2 linked regions of the Homo sapiens genome follow. The protein of the gene in region 1 purifies or fractionates together with the protein of each later gene. This does not show direct contact. Each region holds a gene or a part of one and is shown on either strand. Other genes may lie near its edges.

Region 1 (5,756 bases):
GAGACCCTTCTCTTCCCTCCCTAAATCCCAGCCCTCCCTCAAGGCCCAGCCTGATCCCCTCTGAGTTTCTCAAATGGATGCCAAGAAAAAGTTCCACCAACCCTGCCCTGAATTGCATGGTCTCCAGTGTTCTCCCTGCACTGCGGGCACGAACTGCTCCGTCCAGGAGACCTTCACAGACCACCAGCTCCAGCTTCTCTGGCCAACAGTGGGGGCAGGCTGAGCCAAGACAGGTTGTTCCAGCCCCCTCCCCTCTCTGCCGGCCACAGCCTGGATGATGGGTGACAGCCAGGCCTGGAGCTTCCCCCCCAGCCCCACCCATCCCCAGCAGCAAGTCAGTGGAAGCCAATTTGAAATGGCTGCTAATTTGGAGTGACTCACACCATGGGTGATGCTGTAAGCGCCTCCAGGTCCCACATGCTGCAGACAGCACTCAAAATGGTCGAACAAATCCAAACTCTGGCTTCAAACCTAATTGTTTTCCTGGGGGACCCAATGGCTCTTCCTCACTCAGGTCTTTGCAATCTGCATGTCCAGTTTTTAAACAAAGCTGTTTAGAATCTCCCAGGATTAAGACAAGTGGAAAATTGCAAGCCCAGACCTCTACCTCATTTTCTCTAAAACAAAACATGTCATCCTGCATGTTCACACACCCGGAAAGACACAGTTCATTCAAACTCAGCTGGGCACCCTGCCCCTCTGAGCCCTCCTGTAGAGCCTGGCCCTGAGACGGGGCTGGGGACTTGCTGAGGCAGGATCTTCTCCTACTGTCCCTGGCACTGCCACCCTCAGGGCTTGTCGGAGAGCTTTGGGCCCCTAAGCCTCAGTCTCCACACTGGCAGGTGGCCAGGGGAGAGGCCGTCAGCAGGGTTCCCAGGTACCGTGTCCAGGTTTTACCCTGCCATCTAAGGGGAAGGCACTCACATCACAGGTATATACTGACATTTTTTTTTTTCCAAGATGGAGTCTTGGCTCTGTTGCCCAGGCTGGAGTGCAGTGGCCAATATTGGCTCACTGCAACCTCCGCCTCCCAGATTCAAGCAATTCTCCTGCCTCAGCCTCCCGAGTATCTGGTATTACAGGTGCGCACCACCAAGCCCGGCTAATTTTTGTATTTTTAGTAGAGATGGGGTTTCACCATGTTGGCCAAGCTGATCTCGAACTCTCGACCTCATGATTTGCCTGCCTTGGCTTTCCAAAGCGCTGGCATTACAGGTGTGAGTCACCATGCCCGGACCCTTTTCTTCTTGAGACAGGGTCTCACTCTGTCACCCAGCCCGGAGTGCAGTGGTACGATCATGGCTCACTACAGCCTCAACTTTCTGGGCTTAAGCAATCCTCCTGCCTCAGCCTCCTGAGTAGCTGGGACTACAGGCACACACTGATTACCACACCTGACTAATTTTTTTTTCTATTCTTATTAGAGACGAGGTCTCACTATGTTGTCCAGGCTGGTCTCAAGCAATGCTCCCGCCTTGGCCTCCGAAAGTGCTGGGCCTACAGATGACAGCCACTGTGTCTGGCCTATACTGATCTATTGAGAGTGCACACGTGGGCCCCTCCACTGAGTGCCAAAACAATGCAGAGTGCCCTCCCACACAAACCCATGCAAGCACACCCAACACACATGTAAGGCAAGTGTGCACATAGTCACTAACACCCACACATGTGCATGGCTGCACCCTGTTTCAATCTTGCTCTGAGAATCCCTCCCACCCCAGCTCACTTCCCTCACCTGTTCACTGTCCTCAGAGGCCCTCTCCCTGACTCTGAACCTGACACATTCCCCACATTGCAAGGGGAGGGACCAGACTGTGTGTGTTTCCAGCAACATGTGCACCCCATGATTGGAGGCGGCGTGCCTCCAAGTGTGCGCACAGCCAGGGTCACTGCCCACGAGGGCTCAAGGGGGTTGCCTCAGACACAGTTGGACCTTGTTCCAGCTGTACAATAATATATTCACTTTAATTTTTGCTTGTAACCTGAAGAAGGGCCATTTTTCAAATTTCGCACAAACGTGCTGTGAGAGTTAGCAGCAATCCTAAGCTACTAAGGCCAAGGCCAAGGCCTCACCAAGATCCTGTACCCCAAAGGCCACAAGACCCTCCAGCCTTCCTGCAATAACAGCAAAGCCTCTCCAGCAGGTGGGAGGATTTCAGGGGGCACTTACTGAGCTTCCTGACTCTTCGGACCCCCTGGACTGCTCTCTACCAGATCTTTTCCTGTTCCTAACACAAGATCAGATGTTCTAAAAATGATGACCATTGAGAGTAGAAATGGTCACAAGACTCTCAGAAAGTGAGTGAATATTCAAAGTATCATCAATTTCCAGCCATCCACTGTGAGGGAGCCTGAGAGAAAACAGAGGGCGGAAGGGGTGTGGTAAATCAAAGCACAGATAATACTAAACAATAGGCCAAAAAAAAAAAAAAATCTACATTTGGCTCCAAAGTATCGGGTTGAAATGCAGATAGGATCGTGCTCCCAACTCCAGATGCCAGCAAAGGGGTTCTTCTATCTCCTTCCCATTCTGAAGAGCACCCTCCTGGTTCAGGCTAAAATTCTGGTTACACTTTTGGTTTGAGAGCAAGGAGAGAGTTTGGAAGCTAACCTGCTCCAGGCAGATATTCTCATTTCGTTATGCTGTGGCTATGATTGAAGTTGAAATGATTAACATGCAGGGCTGGAGTCCAGCAATGGAGGCTTACTCCTCACTGCCTCAGGCACGGGCACGAAGAAGAGAGTTTAAACCAAATCAACAGCAGAGCCGTCTACACAGGACAGAAGTCAGGCAGTAGGACCCCGCCACTCGCCACTCACGGGGCAGGGGACCATCTCCGCAAACAACTTCCACCCCCAGTCCGCTCCTATCAGAAGTCAGCATCTCCAGTTTACTCATTAACTTCACTCTTTCCTCCTCCATCCACCTCCAGGTCAGAGGCCGGGAAGGCACTAGTCAGAGGCAGAAGGCAGGCCCAGGACTGGAAGCCAAAACCCAGGCATACCAACTCATCCCACCTCAGAAACCACCTCCAGCAGAGCCAGAAAGAACCTTGGCAGTGGGTCACCCAACCTGCCGCTTTGTAGGTGAGGAAAATGGCCTGAAGAAGCCAATCGACTTGCCCAAGTTCGCACAGCAGTTACAGGTAGGAGCAGGAGCCAGGACAAGAACCTCCCACCCCAGAGCTGGTCAACATCCCAGAGCATGGCTCCAGAGCATGACGAGAAATGCAAAACCAAAGCCCCCTGGAGCCACAGCCATCAGAGAGGATCAACGTCCTGTCTGCTGAGGCCTCCACTCACATCTCCCTCACTTGGGTTTCAACGCAGATGCACAGAGGAAAGACGGTCATCTAGATAGACACGGCTGGTGACGTCAGGGGCTATCTGTGTCTCCCCAAGGCCATACAGGCCTCCTGGGGAGCCCTTCACCAAGTTCTGTCTGGCAGGGCCCACCAGGAACAGGCCCCACGGGATGTGGGGGACATGCCGCACAGCAGGACGGTCATTCCCTTGTCCTTAAGTCCTTCCCTCTCTGCCGCCCGGTCTTTTTTTTTTTTTAATAGGGACAAAGTTTCACTATATTGCCCAGTCTAGTCTTGAACTCCTGCCTCAGCCTCCCAAAGCACAGGGATTCCAGGCGTGAGCCACTGCACCTGGACGGTTACTGCCTGATCTTCACCAGACTGATTTTCCTCCACCCAAGCCCATGTGCCTAGCGGCACTGCACCATCCAGTGATACGCGGTGCCTCAAATCCCAGAGCTGCAAGAATGAAAGCAGACACCCATCCGGGCCCCAGGGAGGCGGGAGGAGGACTTAAAATGGGAGCTCAGGCATTCCTGCCACAAGCAGGCTCAGGGAGGGACCTGGAGCGGATTCCCAGAGTCAGTTAAGAACAGCCGCAGGTCTGCATTAGAAAAGGCAGGCGCTGCAGGGTCATAGCATCTGGGCTGGAGCCCCTGCTCCGGCTAACACTATGTGGGCCTTACCTGCTGCCGCTGGTAAAGGAGGAGGACATGACAGCTACCCCACGGGGCCTTTGTGAAAGTTAAATGAGATTTAAATTATAACTTCATCTGATTAAGTTAAATTGGTTGTGGACATTTGTAAAGGGTCTAAAACTGAGTCTGATCATGATGACAAATATGAATACTGGCATCCTAAGTATAACGTGCAAGGCATGGCAGGACAATAAGAGGTTCCTGGCCACTCTTGGGACACCAAATAATCCCTGCTGGAACTCACAGACAAGAGAATCTTTGGCAAGATGAGCCACCAGCCAGCACCATTCCACCCCCTCTCCCTGCTCCACCGACTACACCATTGGGTTCAGGGAAGGTAAGATTTTACAAATCACCCAGCAGGGAGAAGCCGCAGGAGAAAACACACATAAATTAAACATAAAAAGGCCCAGGTCAGTAAACAGCACCCCAAGGGAACCTGAATCAGCACCGTCCACCCCCACTGTCTGGCTGCCTGGTCTGTAGTCTGGCACAGCGGAGGCCTCGATGCACAAGTGCTAGGAACAATGAACAAACCATCAGCAAGACCCCCAGGAGCCTGGAGGATCAGGGAAGAGGGCCCCGTAGGGGTCCTGGTGGAGGGCGGTGGGCAGAGCAAAATGGAGACACTAAGGACTGGCCAGGACTCCTGCATCTTCTCTTCTGGCCTGTTGTGGGAGGCCCCTCCACCCTGGCTCCCAAGCCTGCTGGGAGGAGACAGGAAGCAGGAAGTTACAGGCCTCTCCCTAGGCTTCCTCCACACAAATGGGGTGGCCAAGAAAGAATCTAAGAGTACCATCAGCCACCAATCAGAAACAGTGGGGAGGAGATCATTCTTGCCTGGCCCCCAAAGCCCAATTTAAGGAGCTTAGAAAATCAAAGCCAGGAGTCAGGGCACGACAACTAGAAAATGTCAGCATCCTCTTCTATCCTGCCCAACCCACAGTTAAAGGGCAAGAAAGACCTTGACTTCAGACAGAGGTTATAACACACAGACGTTCAGAGGCCCTACCCCACAATGGACCCGGACCAACACTGACCTGTTCTCTCTGAACTTCCTGGAAACACCTTGGCTGCTGACAAACAAAAGAAGGTTCCAGGATATTCCTGCAGGAAGGCAAAAAATTAGGTCATCACTTTGGTAAGAAGCCACTCCAGGGTGAATTCTGTCCATCAAGGACCACTCTTTGGGGCAGCAGTCCCCTACCAAGAAACTGCTCACTCAACAAATGGAGAAAGCCAGAAATGGCAAACAGGAAGGCAGTGTGCTAATGCCACTCAGTTGGCGGTGGGTACCCAAGGCATTATGAGCAGAACCCAAGCCCTGGCCCAGCAGAAAAGACAGCTGCGATTGATTAGTGATGTCTGCCACGGGCAGTTACAGAAGTAACAGAATCCTCACCATGTATTTGTCATCCCTGGGGTAGACCTTTGTCATCCAAGGATTTAATATTACAATTTTGGCCACTCACAAGTGACCCAAAGTTTCAAGATATGTAAAAGTGTGTAAACTCACTGAGATGTGTTTGCATCGCGTACGCTATGAGGTCAATATAAAGGAAAGGGCCACCTTGTTGTTTTCATCTCTACCACATTCAAAGTTACTCTTATGGAGCAATAAAAACTTGGTGGAAAATGGCCATCAAGTGAGAAATAAAACTGCAGCAGAAACTGAAAGGGCAGTTAACTTGGGGTGTGAGGATATATACAGGAAACATTTGACTCTGCAGAAACATGACTCCGGAGAAAGCCA
Region 2 (3,500 bases), on another chromosome or scaffold:
AGCAGCTGGTTAATAAAGTGGAATATATTGTCATTTTATAATGTGTGTTTGTGACTAGTGGGGAATATCAGGGCCATTCACATAGTGGGAAAATGACTTGTATAGGCTAGGGAAATGGAAACCCCTAGAACTCTGTCATTTGGACTCACAGTGGGAGAAGACTATTGACATTTGTGCACATAAAGAATAAAATGTGGCCAACTTGGAGGAGGTGGGGTTGCTTTTGAAATGGGATTTAGAGAAAAGAGTCTTGAGACACCATGGAGTTGTGATCTGGTCACTAGAGATAAGCCTCTGTTACAGGCAGGAACATTTCACTAGGCTTTCCCAGAGCACAGGTGAAATTGGTCCCTAAAAACCTCCCCCATGGCGTCAATGCTTACGAAGGAACCTCATGCACTCTGGTCACTGGGAAGTGATATGCCCATTTTGATAAACAGGCATCTGGTTTATTGTCTCGGTCTATGGACAAACTTAATGAGTGGGACATTATCCAGCTGAGCACCAGACCTTCAAGCCCTGAGGTGTTGTCTCTGGAAGACCACATCTGGGTTATAAGCCAACCCAACCCCATCTGCCTCCCCTCACACAAGGATGGACACCTTATATTTTGAGCTGCCTGATAATAATTCCTTTAACTTTTTATGATTAAGAGAATATAAGTAAATAGTTTAAAAAGTCAAATAGTTCTACTACATGTCTCACAAAAACAGCAGTTCCCTGCCCGACTCCTTCCCGTTTCTGAGTCCCATTCACGAAAGGCAACCACTCTTAACTCTTTTTAAAAGTCTTCTTGCCCCCATGTTTTTATTATGTTTGCTCTGATATGTCCTACCTTTTTTCCATTCCATCATTTTCTTTCAACTTCGTACCCTAGAAGTTGGAGATTGAGCTCTTTTACACCACTCCCCTCACACCCACCATGTTCTTCCAAAATAGTTATATCACAAGTTTTAGTTAAATCCAAGTTTGCAGTAGTATGGCTATATAAATATTGTTCACAGCTGAGGAACACAGTATACTATGATTCTTTCTTGTACAACATTTACAAAAATTTTCCCGGAGGTTAATAATTGCTTCATTTGGGGATTAATAAATGCATTATCACTCATCCCGAAATTTCCAACAAAACCATTAAACTTCTTTCAATTGATTCAAACATATCAGATGATATATCAGTTTCTTGTGATTTTTCCCTCAGAGACATGCCATGTGAAGCCCTCCATTCTCTTCCCCCATCATGACCTGGTTGCTCTCCTAAGCCTGCTGCTCTACCGTCATGCTTCAGCTTTCCCATTTTATAGATGATGAGGCTTTGCAAGTTCCTTCAAGATCCTGCTCAAATAGCACTTTGTTGGTAAAGCCATCCCAGTTCTATAAGCATAATTTTCCTCCCTTGGTGCTCTATAGACCCTGTTCAGACTTCTATTATAGGATTTAGCATGTTTTAGTTGTGTTTGTCCCTCTAGCTGAACTGTGAGCTCCTTGAGTATAGGACATACATCTTCTTTATCTCTGTATCTTTATCACCTAGGACAGTCCCTGGAACACAGTAGATATTCAATAAATATTTGAGGAAGGAAGGAAGAAAGAAGGGATGTGGGAGGGAGAGAGGAAGGCAGTGCTGGACATCATTGGAAAAAAGACTAGAAAGGAAGCAATGCTCAAGTCCAAATCCTACATATCTCTACATCTGCAGTATGATTGTACCTCTGAGAAGGCAAAAAGATATTGAGGGAATTCTAAAGAAAGATAACAGAAATGATGCAGGAAATATAGCTGAAAGTGATATGAGAATAAAGGAGCAAACTTCAGGAGAAATAAAAGGAAGAAAGTTCAGGTGCATAGGAAGAGCAAAAACCCACTGGAACTTGCCATCCCTGGATATGGCATATATTAAAATCACAAATTCAAAGTAAGTTTGAAAAAAGATCCTAAGTGTTATTAAGTGATCCTTGAGATGTTTGGTGAGATATTCCTTGTGAGGAGTTGCCCCTGGGTCAGCTCAATTGGACAATTCCAGGAGTCTTAAATCTTACACTCAGAGAGTGAGTAAGCACCTTCGAATAGGAAAATTGAGGTTTAGAGGCATCCTGGCTCTGCCAGTTACTAACTGGATGACCTTGGGCAAGTCATTTACTTCCCTGAGCTTCAGTGTTCTTTTCAGCAAAATGAGGCCGACAATAGTCTGCCTCCCTAGATAGGGGTGGTTGGGAGGAAAGAGTGAGATAATACTCAGCATAATTCATGCTCCACAAATAGTAGCTACCGTGATTGTGGGTACGAGTGTTATTATTATAATACTATTATTATTAGTGGCAGATCTTTGCAAGGTATATGTTTGTCAGAGCTACAGTGTCACCTGGATTTACCAACAGCATCACAAAGAGAAATTCAGCCTGCTGTTATCAGAAAGGCTTCTTTTTTAGTATTGAATAGTAATACCTACCTTCTAGCGATTTTGTGAAGCAAACAAATTGCTTTTTGTAAAGGATTTAGGGCAGCATATGGCATATATTATTATGTGAGCATTAGATATTAGGATGGTCATTCATCATATCAGCCTGTATATAAAGCACACAAATCTCCAGAGAAGCAGGAAGCACTAACTGGGGATCCTAACTAATTTATTTGTCTGACAGGCCCAGACTACTTGATTTAAGGAGAAACCGTTAAAGTTGTATGGTCAACTCACGTGAAGAAGTGAGATCGATTTCGCAGGAACTATTGCCAAGTCTGTTGATGGCAGTACACTGGTAATAACCTTGTTCAAAATTTGTCAGATTTCCAATGACCAAAATCCCGGTGGTTGGGTCTGTTGAAACCAGGGAATAGACTTTTGAGATCTCTTCTGTGCATACAGATAACATCAGTGTAACAGATCACTCAATGTCCACCCACTCCCCCATATTGGCCTCTCTTTCTTGAGATGTTCAGGATTCAACTAGGCCCCTCAGGACTGTTCCAGTGCTAACTCACCTGGGACCATGCCTGTTCCCTACATATTCACCATCTCTGAGCTGGCTTTTAGAATTTGGGGAGTAGACCAGAACACAATCATCGTGTTGGGAGACAGGCATTCTTTTTACATTACCAGCCGCCCCCCTCCACCCGCCACCACTGAGAAAACAAGAAGATTGAACTGTAAGGTCAAGCAGCCAACCACACACTCCTGCTGTCATCCAACCACAGACACCAGGCCTTTCCAGGGTCTACTGCAGGTTACACTTACTGAAGTTTTCTTTCACTGGCACGATGTCTCTTCCCTCAAGTTTATGCCAGTAGTACACAGGGGAAGGTGTTCCAAGCGCAGAGAGACAGGAAAGGGAAATAGTGTGGCCAGTTTCTGGTCTTCCTTGAACGCTACAAAGGGGCTTAGAAGGTTTCACTGTAAGGCAATGACAAAGAATAAAAATTCTTTAGGATGAATGGCATTCTGTGACAATTGCAGTCACTTCCTCACTTTCATTTTGAATAATATGTGTGTTTATTTATTTTTA

The links. Proteins that work in one complex are often made in the same cells at the same time.
Region 2: the proteins of TSPAN9 (region 1) and VSIG1 purify together in Homo sapiens (co-immunoprecipitation; one large-scale study listed by IntAct). This does not show direct contact.

Annotation. Positions count from the first base shown.
Region 1 is NC_000012.12:3,083,007-3,088,762, reverse strand, and holds part of TSPAN9 (tetraspanin-9), read right to left. Parts: intron 5,111-5,756; 5' UTR 5,044-5,110; intron 1-5,043.
Region 2 is NC_000023.11:108,072,565-108,076,064, reverse strand, and holds part of VSIG1 (V-set and immunoglobulin domain-containing protein 1 isoform 2 precursor), read right to left. Parts: intron 3,389-3,500; coding exon 3,233-3,388; intron 2,816-3,232; coding exon 2,696-2,815; intron 1-2,695.